3 linked regions of the Homo sapiens genome follow. The gene in region 3 interacts genetically with the main gene of each other region. Each region holds a gene or a part of one and is shown on either strand. Other genes may lie near its edges.

Region 1 (3,408 bases), on a different chromosome or scaffold from region 3:
AGTAAATCCTCATGAGGAAAAGTACAAATGGAAATCGTATTAATTTGTGAGGCAGGGAGTTATTTTAGATTATGGGAAATAATTTTTAAAGGTATTGGTTAAATAACGTTTAAAAACATGTACTGAGATGAATCTAATTTTTAGATTGCCCTGTATTTTGTTAACATGTATATATGTACAACAGTGTGTTTGTAAATATATAGGAACGTTTCTGAACAGGGTCTGTGCTATGTGTAAAGGTTTGTTAACTGTAAAGTAATATAAAGTTATATTGGATCTTCTATTGCACTAATTCTAGATGTCTAATTCAGGATACTGTCTATAGAAAGGCATTCTTAAAAGTTAAAGAATGTTACGTCTTAGTTTTGGAGACTAAAGTATTCCCAGTAAAGTGGGTTGAGGTGAGGGCTGTGGTCCTGAAAGGGACGCCTTTGACATCGTGGCTGTCCAGTTGGGCTGTGAGCTGTGGCACCCAGGACTGGCGCTGGCCCTTCAGAAGGATCTAGGAGAGGGGCTTGGGAGCCCACTTTTAATTTCTCACCCCCATTTTACAAAGAGTGCTTAGATTCTTACAAATTATGATGTAAGTTATCCATTTGGCTTTTTCCTAACTAGTCTTACCAAACTTAGGGGGAAACCTGTGCTCCATTACCACATGGGTGCAAGTCAGCATTGTAAGTTTTCTCAGGTTATTATTATTAGAGAGGTTGGAAACATTGGTAAACTCTGTTGATTGAGAAGGAAAAAAAAAGTCCCATTGAACTGTTGCAACAAATCAGAAATCCACATAAAAGTGCTCTCCTGCCTGGGCAGCAACAACCAAGAACAAAGCCCCGGGACTGTTTTCTTTTTAATAAAGCCACAGGCAGGCATCGTAGCTCCACAGCCCGAGGGGACACAGGATGGAAACCCCAGGATGAGAAGGGAGCAGGGAGAGTTCCAGAAAGGGGGATGAAATAGGAGTATTAAAAAGCTGCGTTGGTAAGTTTTTCATGGAACCAAGATTTGACAAAGGCATCTCTTATCCTTGGTTTTAAATTCCTGCTGGGAGCAAGGCCTGGTATGAGCGCCCTGGGTCTTGTTTTTGGTGTTTCGCTTTTCTGTAAGGATTAAGCAGATAGGGAGAAGGGAAAAGGGGCCTCACTTTAGAATGAATGAGTCACCTTGTGATTTTTAAATTTTTATTTTAATAAAGCTAATCAATTTCTACAACCTTGTCACATGTAGCTGAGTCTGGGATGACTCAGTGGATCAGTGGATGCGTGGAAGGTTTTGGTGTTTATAACTCATGACCCAAATCCTTCCAAGACACAAATGAAGCTAATCTTCTTCCCCTCCCTTTCCTCTCCCACTTCCCCTCTGTGTCTGTGTCTGTGTGTGTGTGTGTGTGTGTGTGTGTGTGCGCGCGCGCGCGTGCATGCAGAGAGGAAGGAAGGGAGCTTTAGCACAAGTAGCTACATAGTGTTCAAGGATCAGCTTTCTTGAACTCCGAGGCTTGGTTGCCTTTGCTGAACTCCAAGTTAGTGGATTGCAGAATGGAAACTTGGCTTTTGCGGCACTGGGTGAGTTTTAGTTTGTGTGTGTCTTGCTGGGGGGTGGTGATGATTGTCTCAGCACTCACGCACTGCACAAGATGGCAGCAGGATACAGCACTGCACAAGATGGCAGCTCCTCTGCAGCTTCCTCCTCAGCCTCCCTCCTTGCACCCCCACAGGTTTGGCTTGTGGTTTTTGTCATCAGTAACCTACTGCCTGAGATCATGATCTCTTAAAAGATGAGACTCTCGGAAGGGTTGATTGTATGCGTCAGTGAGCCTTCTATCACCTTCTGGAACAAAGTCACTTGAAATCTCTTGATGAGATTAAGGAGTTTAGTGTTACTAAGAAAATCTGCTTTGGGCCGCAGCAGTGCTGGGTGTTCTCAGACCTGACTGAGGAAGTTAGCTGCGGGCTGCCCTGTGGGCTGGTGCTTCAGGAGGAATCCAGAGAAGTGTTCAGATGCCCCCCTTGGGCTCCTTTCTAATTTTAATCAGCTCTTTAAATAGCTGCCCATCTCCTGTGATTGCACAACCAAGCACTTTGACATTTGCACCTTAGGAGAGGCAGATGTTAAAATGGAATCCAAAGACCACCTAGGGCGGGGCTGGGTGGGAGATGGGAGGGCCAACTGCGAGCTGCTCCACTTCTCAGCTCTCCCCTGCCCTGCAGCCCTGGGCCAGACAAGGCCAGAAGGTTTCAGGGGCATTTGACATCCCCTCCTGGTTCTCACCAGGAAAACATCCAAAGCTTTGGAGGAAACAGGCCCTGCCCCTGGCTCCTTAAATGCCCCGTCTCTTTGTAAACTGATATTCAGCCAGCAATGCCTAAGACTTTGTTAAGATCATTTCTACTGCTTTTCTTTCTGCTTCAAACACACAGTTCGTCTCTGAGGAAAGTAAAATAAATGGAATAAGAGTAAATTGGGTAAGGAGATATCCAAAGCTACCCAGTCCCTTGACCCAGCACAGTTGGCCGACCCGTGTCACTCCCTGGCTGTCGCTGCTTCTCTGTGCTCACTGAAGGGTGAGCCAGGCCAGTGCTTCCCCAGCCCCTGGGCCTGGTCACTACACAGTGGAAAACAGACAAGCGGCCCCTTCCCCAAATCCCAAGAGTGTCTTGCTGCTTGGTGGGTGCTCATCGCAATGTTCTGAAGGCTCCAGGGCCACTTTGTTTGTAAGTATGATCTGGGCCTCAAAATACCATAGTAGCTGCTTGATAAAATTCTAAAAATATCTGGTTCTCTATTATGTAAACACTATTACAGTCACCAGTGTGTGAAGACTCTTGAGTCTGGTTCTCATATCAGAGTCATCATTTTTCTTCCTGTGGAATAAAATGCCTTGTGGACTTCCCAAACTTGTTCTTTTGTTTTCTTCTGGTCTCTTGGTGATCCACAGCTTCTAGAGCTATCACCAGTGACAAATACCAAACATAGTGTGATGTTCACAATAAAATGTGGCCTCTGCCCCCAGGCCTGGGGAAGCACCCCCACACCTTAACCAGTCTCAGCCTCCCAAGAGTAAGTAGTAGTCTCCGCGCTACACTGGCTGCTGATCAGTCCATTCTGAGGTTCCTGGTCCAAGCCCCAGCAGGACAGACGTCACACTTAGGGTTTAGGCAGCTGAAGAAGAAACAGCAAAGGAGGCCGGGCATGGTGACTCATGCCTGTAATCCCAGCACTTTGGGAGGCTGAGGCAGGCGGATCACAAGGTCAGGAGATTGAGACCATCCTGGCTAACATGATGAAACCTCATCTCTAACCCCGACTATATCGCCCCTCTCTATTCCATCCACTCCACCTCAAAATTAATAACCTTGTGTGTCGCCCAAATTTTCACCACGTTATATAATTATGTGTATAACTAAAACT
Region 2 (3,749 bases), on a different chromosome or scaffold from region 3:
GAGTATGGAACTCTCAAATGCTGCCAGGGGGAGGGTAAGATAGCGCAGCTACTATGGAAAACAGTCTTGTAGTTCCTCAGAACATTAAAAACACAGCTGCTGTGTGGCCTTGTAATTCCACTGATAAGGCATATTCAAGCAAAAGAAACATCACACAAGAGTTTGTACGCGAACGTTCACAGTCCGCTGTTCGTAACAGCCAAAGGTGGAAACGACGCAAATGCCCAGCAACCTACGAGCGGCTGAACGATACGTGCTGTGCTATACGACGCGCTGCTACTCAGCCACAAAGAGAACGAACTTCGAACACGCCGATGAGTGGAAGAAGCCACATACCGTATGATCCCCCTTATGAGGAGCGTCTAAAAAAAGCAAACCCATTGATCCAGGAAGTAACCACTGATCCAGGAGTGGCTGCCTGGGGCTGGGGGTGGAAAGGGGCGGGATATGGAAGCGATGGTAACTGGTACAGGATTTCTTTTCGGGGCGATAAAGATGTTCTGGGATAGCGGCAACCACTGCACAACACAGTAACAGATGCTAACTTCTCAGCTTTAAACGGTAAACTGTGCCTCAGTTATTCCTCACTACAGATTTTAAGAAAGCTCATAATGCATTCCCATGGCTGCAGACCACAGTGTGATCTGAGCAAACACATCTGTGGACTGGCACGAGGCTTGGTGTGCGTGCTCTATGCAAACACAGAGATCCCCGTGGATGCCACTGGAAATGAACACGGATTCTGCGTCTTCAATATTCACTACAGGACTCGATAGCCATGTTTCTGAATGGGACTGAACACCCACAGGGTGATGCTCCCATGAAGGAAGCAGCTTTGCCTGGACAATTGTGGGAGCCCCAGACCTCTGCTTTGTGGATAACCTGGGAGTTGGGGTGCAGGGGATGGACAAGGATGAGGCCAGCCCAATGACCCACCTTGACCTGAAAGGAGGGGTGGCCCAGGAGCTCTCCCAAGCGATTGCAGCAGCTGTGATAGCGGTGTCTCATCCACACCTTGTACTTCCGTGTGGCTCCCTGGGACCCTGCAGACAGGTTAGGGTGGTCAGCCCACGTGAGGCCCACATACGCCACCCTGGGCCCAGCCCAAAATCTCAGGCCTGGCTCCACCCTCCCATTGTCTTCTACTCAGCCTCCGCAGGTGGAAACAGGTCGCTAAGGCCCCCAGACCTGTGCTGAGACCAGCACATTCCCTGAGCCCTGCAAACAGGAAGAGCACCTCCTACCCCAGGACTGCCCCAGCCAAGCTGCCAGGAGCAGGATCCACATCCCCTCTCTTTACTCCAAGACCTGACGTCCCCAGGATGGGGACATAAAGGAAGCTCCGAGTTTAAGCGACCGTGTCAGGATCAGTCAACATCAAATTACAAAAGGGGTGCAAAGCACACAAAAAGTCGTACCTTGTCCAGTGTTCATCTACACTCAGCTGCAGGGCACCCATGTCACCCCTGCCCCAACGCCACCATCCATCTTCCACGGTGGGCTTGGTGCGTCCTCCCACCAGCCTGCACGGCCTGTGCCAGGGTTGGGGGCGCTCATCCCATGGTGACAAAGCCTCCCTCCGACCCACGGAAAGAGAAGAGCAGCCCCGGGGCCCTCCAGGGCTCACCTGTCATGACCATCTCCTCAGAGGGCAGCTGGCCCACAAACAGCTCTCCCCGCTCCAGCAAGGCCCCGAAAAGACGGCTGCACGTGCGGACTGCTTCCTGGATCTCCTCCTGGTCCTCAGACTGCAGGAGAGGCGGCGGCAGGGTGCCCGGCCGCCAACTGTCACCTTCGCCCCTGCCTAGGCTGCCCCCAACCCGTTCCCTTCCCCCTCGGGACGCCAGCCCCGTCACCCCCGACCCGTGACCCACACGCCTCCCACCCTGACCCCCCAACGCCGTCTCGGAACCTCCTGGGGACCTGCCGCCGCAGCCCCCCATTCAAGTCCCGCTCCCGTGCCGCGACTCCGGCCCTGCGACGCCGCCAGGCCCACCTGCAGCACGGCCAGGATGTCGAACACGGCGTTGGCCTCACTGCGGCTCGCCAGCACCGCCTCCAGCCGGCGGCCCAGAGCCCGGCGAACTCCCGCGGCGCCCGGCTCCCGCTCCATGCCGCCCCCAACACGGAACAACGCGGATTCTCAGCCGCCGGCGCTCCCGTGACGTCACCACTGCGCGTAGAACCCGACGTCATCTCTACGCGCCGTACCCCAACCCCATCTTTTGCGCGGAGCCCGAGTCGCAGGCGTGCCGCCGACGTCATCGCAGCGCGCCACGCCCGAGTCCCAGGCGTGCGGCTGGCCATGGCGCTGTTCTACGTCGCGCGGTACCCGGGCCCCGATGCGGCAGCTGCGGCGGGGCCGGAGGGCGCGGAGGCCGGGGCGCACGGCAGGGCCCGCGCGCTGCTCGAGCGGCTGCAGAGCCGGGCCCGCGAACGGCAGCAGCAGCGGGAGCCCGCGCAGACCGAGGCGGCTGCATCGACCGAGCCGGCGACCAGGAGGCGACGGCGGCCCCGGCGGCGGCGGCGGGTGAACGACGCGGAGCCGGGGAGCCCGGAGGCGCCGCAGGGAAAGCGACGGAAGGCGGACGGCGAGGACGCGGGCGCAGGTGGGCCGCGGGGCGAGCGGGCTCCCTCTGGGGCGCCGGCGACTCGGTGCTGACGCGCTGCCGGGTGGGTGTCTGCCTCGCAGAAAGCAACGAGGAGGCGCCAGGGGAGCCCAGCGCAGGGAGCAGCGAGGAGGCGCCAGGGGAGCCCAGCGCAGGGAGCAGCGAGGAGGCGCCGGGGGAGCGCAGCACCAGCGCCAGCGCCGAGGCGGCCCCAGATGGACCGGCCCTGGAGGAGGCGGCCGGACCCCTGGTCCCCGGCCTGGTGCTGGGGGGGTTCGGGAAGAGGAAGGCGCCGAAGGTGAGCCTCGGCGGGCGGGAGGGTGGTCGGCGTGAGAGGGTAGGCTGCGCGGATTCTTAAGTGCGGCGGTCGCCCCGGAAGATTTCGTTCAGCGAATGTTCCCGGGTCACAGCCGCGCCTCGCTGCCAGGTCTGCAGTTTCATCGCCTAGGGGTCTGGATCCTGCACGTGCAGAGCTCCCGTTTCCTCTGCTAGGCTTGCCCCTGTCCTCCCGCCGCGCCGCGCCAGTTCTGCAAGATGTGTTTGCGTGAACGTGCGGGGTTTCCTGCTGTGCGCTCACCGCCTCAGGAGTAAGTCAGAGGCCGTTCTGCAAGCTCCTGACCGTTGGTGTTTTTGCTTAGCACGTGTGGTTTTCGGTAAAGAGATTTCCGGCGAGACAGGTGAAGAAAGCGAGAAGTTTGACAGAGTGCTCGGGCACCTTAGGTAGGGCAGGTGGAGGAGGTTCTCTTTGAGTTGGGATGCAAAGACTTGAAGCCAGGTCAAGGTTGGGGGTTGGGGGTGCCAGGCAGAGGCCTCGAGGCAGGGACGCCGGCGTGGCTGGGGCAGGCGAGCGCCAGGTCACAGGACCTCCTGGCTGCGGGAGGGTGGGTGCCACTGTGGGTTGATGGGAGGCTACAGAGTGAGTTTGCTCAGGGAGTGGCATCTGCTTTTACTGTTTAACTTCTGAAGGCTGTATGGAAAGCGCATCCTGGGGCTGAGAAGGAGCTGAAGACGACAGAGGTTTCCCCAGCCTCCCTCCCCTAGCTTTTTCCACCGTGGGCTTCTGCGCGAGAGCCTGGAAAGCGCTCACCTGGCCTCTCTTTCTTTTTGATGGCAGGTCCAGCCTTTCCTGCCAAGGTGGCT
Region 3 (3,649 bases):
CTATTCCTCAGGGCTCCACTGACCTTGAAGGCCTTGTTTGATCAGTGCTGGCATTGACCTAGAAACTTCAGTTGTCTTCCTCCTTTATGGACTTGTCAAGCCCTTCCTGCAGTTGATCATTCTGGGCAGTTAACTTGAGTTGAAGTCGTATATAAAATGCCTTATTCTGAAGTAGAGCTTAGACCCTTAGATAACCACCCATTTTCTTTTAGATGTGTCTAGAGAAGATCTTGTTAAACTCAGCAACAAAAGCCCTATAATTATTTTGTTAGCTGGATTCCAGCAGGCATAACATAGCTTGCTGGGTGGCATAGCCCTATGACAGCTTGTACTAAAACAGACCCAAACGTGTTCTATCAGGAAATCCTTAGATCTCCATCCAAAATGCAATCGGCACTACACTAGAAAACTTGCTTGTCTCTCTTGGATTCTATAAGACCTATAGGACATTTTCTCCTTAGAAGTTTAAGATTGGAATCTACTCTGGCAATGTGGTGGCCTGGAGGCATATGTGCAAAGGGCAATTAATTATTTGTTTAAAATGAAGTGCCATGTATTTATAGGCACAAAAGAGGTTTTACATTAAAAAGTTAAGTCTCCTTTCTAACCCTTCTACTTTCCTTACTCAAACCTTTAGAGGTTGCCAGTGATACCATGGTCTTGGGTATCTTTCCGGATATATTCAGTGTACACATAGCCTGTACAGTTACATTTAAACATATGGTAGCATGCATATATTCATACTGTTCTGCGCTTTAAAAAATAACTTAATGGTCAGCCTTGGTCATTACTCAATATTTACAGAACTCATTCATTATTTTTGTGGTTACATACTATCCCATTATTTGGACATAAAATAATTTATTTAGCCAATCTTCACTGATGGAAATTTAGGTTGTTTCCAACCTTATACTATTAAAATAATATGTTAATAATCATTTGTATGAATTTTATTTACTACATATGTGACTATATCCATAAGGTAAATTATTAGAAGTAACATTTCTGGATCCAAGGTGTGTGCATTTTAAATTTTGATAGTTTTTGCCAACCTGCTCTTCAGGGATCTTATGCTAATTTTAACTCCCCTGCCCCAGCAATGTATGAGAGTGCCTGCTTGTTTTATCCATGTCTTTGTCTATACATTCCCTTTCATACTTTTTGATCTTTGCCAATCTGATAGGTAAAAAATGTTATCACAGTTTTTAATTTGCATTTTTCTTATGGCTAACATTGAACATATTTTTATCTACATGTATTTCCTCTTTAGTAAACTATCTGTGTATCCTTTGCTCATTTTCTTATTGGGCTATTGGACCCCTTCCTGTTGATTTGGTGGAACTATTTATATTTTGAGGAAATTAAAGCTATTTTATATTGAAAAAATTAGTTCTTTTCTATGATATGAGCTACAAATGCTTTTTCACATTTTGATATGTCTTTTGACTTTATGGTGTTAAGAATTCGTTGCATGCCGTAGAATTTACCAGTCTTTTATGACTTCTGGGTTTTTATCATATTAAAAAATATGTGTTCTCCTATATTTTCATCTAGCATATTTGGGGTTTTTTTCTCATTTAAATATTTCTTATTTTGGTCTTAGGTGAAGGGCATTCTATTTAGATAACTGGAAGAGTTTTGGCTGTGAGGAAGTATTCTCTTTATAATGAAAGTTGTTTGGGTTATAACAGCTGGACATTTCTTATTAATTATTCTTCTACAGTGACAGAGTGAAGCATCATGCTTTGTGGTGAATGGACAGCAAGGAGACCTAATAGCTGAAGTGTAGTTGGACTTGGAGCAATTTTAAGTTACAAGACTACTGGCAGTTTCAGAGGGCCAGGTCAAGACTGGCCAAGTTGCCAGAAATTAGTTTTTCGGGCAGTAGTAAAGACCACTTCAAAGGCAGTCTCAGCATGGTCAAAGCTCCAAGAAGAGAGCATTAACAGAGGTGATTTTAGCATTTGGAGAACTCCAGATGAGCTATGGTGTTCATGAAGATCTTGAGTTGTTTGTGGACTTCTCTCCTGAGGTAGCTGCAGATTACCTGATTGACTCTGTTCATTGAGTTCAAAAGAGGGTCTCCAAGGAATTGAGTGCAGTGGTTCTCAACTCTGGCTGCTGTGCTGGAATCTGCTAGGTAGATTCTGACTTAATTGGTCTGAGGTGAGACACCAGCAACAGTTTGAAAACTCCACAGGTGGTTCTAATGTGCAGCTTGGATTGAGAACCATTGTTAATGTAGTCAGTTTGCTGTCTCTTTGAGTCAGGGATTGCAGTACATGCCTCAGTGCTTCCAAAATGTGCATACATATCACCTGGGGATTATGTTTTAAATGCAGAATCAGGAGGTCTGGGGTGAGGCTTGAGATTCTGCCTGTCTGTCTTAATGAGCTCGCAGCTTATGCTGTGGCTGGTCCCCAGACCACACTTGAGTGGCTTGAGTTTGTTACTTGAAGTGCAAAGCACTGGCCCACACCAGTCCACGAGAGTCAATAAGCCATGGTCCTGCTCTCTTGCAGAATTTGCTTAGTGTACTACAAAGAATACTCAGGTCAAGAGATCCGCTTTCCACTTCCTGCTCTGCCTCCAACTAATTAGTGTAAGACAAGTTTCTTAGAAGTGCTTTAGTCCTTCACCCTCTTATCTCTAAAATGAGAGGCTTGAATTGGATAAACTTGAAGGTTCCCTTTGTTTTTAAATCCTCTCATGCTTGTCCAGGATGTTTTCAGACTCTTTCTGGATCAGGTTGTTATGTGGGATGGAATCTGGATCCTGTAAAGACCTTGTCATCCCTTAGAGGATGGAGGCCTAGGCCCTGAGCTTATGATCTAGTGGGAGAAATAAAACTAACAAATGTTAAAAAATTAAAGAAGAGTTAAATGTTCAAGTGTAAGCTATGATAAGTACAAAAAGAATGCAGGGAAGCTAGAGAGGAGTGTTAATTGGAATGGTCAGGAAAACTTCATTGCCAAGGGGGAATTTGAGTTGACATCGTTTTTTCCTGGGCTGGGTGGACTGCAGGGCTGACAAGAGTGGTGGTTCTCCTGCTTTTGAGTTTGCTTGTCTCTAAAAAAGCATCCTTCAACAGTGAAGCACAAAACATATTTTTCTGCCTTAAATTAAAACAAAGTAGAAGAAACATCTAGTTCTGTGGAAGTCTTTAAAGGGAAATCAAAATCCAAAAAACTCTATATTTAATTTTTCAAGGCTAATCTTGACTGAGAAGATTGATACTGAAAAAAAATCACCACTACCAAATATAGAGCAAAAAACCCAGCGTACTTCCGTATCGATAATAAAAAAATGGTATTAGAAATTACCTAAAATGTAAGTAAATTCCTCAAATTATAAGTATTATTGAAAGTGACATATCTCTTTATCTTAACTAATTGGGAAAGAGACCAGATAATTTATTTAGATTTTATAACATAGGTGCACACGAATTTTTGACTCACCTCTTTTAATGTCAAAGGAGATGTATTTTGCATTGTTATTAGAATTTTACTAAATTTTATGTTCCCTTAAGAGGAGGTTATGTGACCAGGGCTCAGGTATTGAAAAATACAAAATAGAGCAGTTACCCTCATTTAATGAGCTATATTTAGTACACACAGTGCAGCTCCGTGTTCTCTGAATATCCTGAGAG

The links.
Region 1: of ATG10 (region 3) and VPS13D, changing one enhances a phenotype caused by changing the other (phenotypic enhancement), as found in Homo sapiens cells (one large-scale study listed by BioGRID).
Region 2: of ATG10 (region 3) and NOC4L, changing one suppresses a phenotype caused by changing the other (phenotypic suppression), as found in Homo sapiens cells (one large-scale study listed by BioGRID).

Annotation. Positions count from the first base shown.
Region 1 is NC_000001.11:12,509,154-12,512,561, forward strand, and holds the end of VPS13D (intermembrane lipid transfer protein VPS13D), read left to right. Parts: 3' UTR 1-2,894; downstream 2,895-3,408. UniProt on the Homo sapiens protein: Mediates the transfer of lipids between membranes at organelle contact sites. Functions in promoting mitochondrial clearance by mitochondrial autophagy (mitophagy), also possibly by positively regulating mitochondrial fission.
Region 2 is NC_000012.12:132,142,853-132,146,601, reverse strand, and holds the start of NOC4L (nucleolar complex protein 4 homolog), read right to left. Parts: upstream 2,146-3,749; 5' UTR 2,114-2,145; coding exon 1,997-2,113; intron 1,749-1,996; coding exon 1,628-1,748; intron 1,044-1,627; coding exon 937-1,043; intron 1-936. Other genes in the region: ATP-dependent RNA helicase DDX51, read left to right, coding at 2,306-2,609, 2,693-2,907, 3,724-3,749.
Region 3 is NC_000005.10:82,052,005-82,055,653, forward strand, and holds part of ATG10 (ubiquitin-like-conjugating enzyme ATG10), read left to right. Parts: intron 1-3,227; exon of another isoform or gene 3,228-3,330; intron 3,331-3,649. UniProt on the Homo sapiens protein: E2-like enzyme involved in autophagy. Acts as an E2-like enzyme that catalyzes the conjugation of ATG12 to ATG5. ATG12 conjugation to ATG5 is required for autophagy. Likely serves as an ATG5-recognition molecule. Not involved in ATG12 conjugation to ATG3.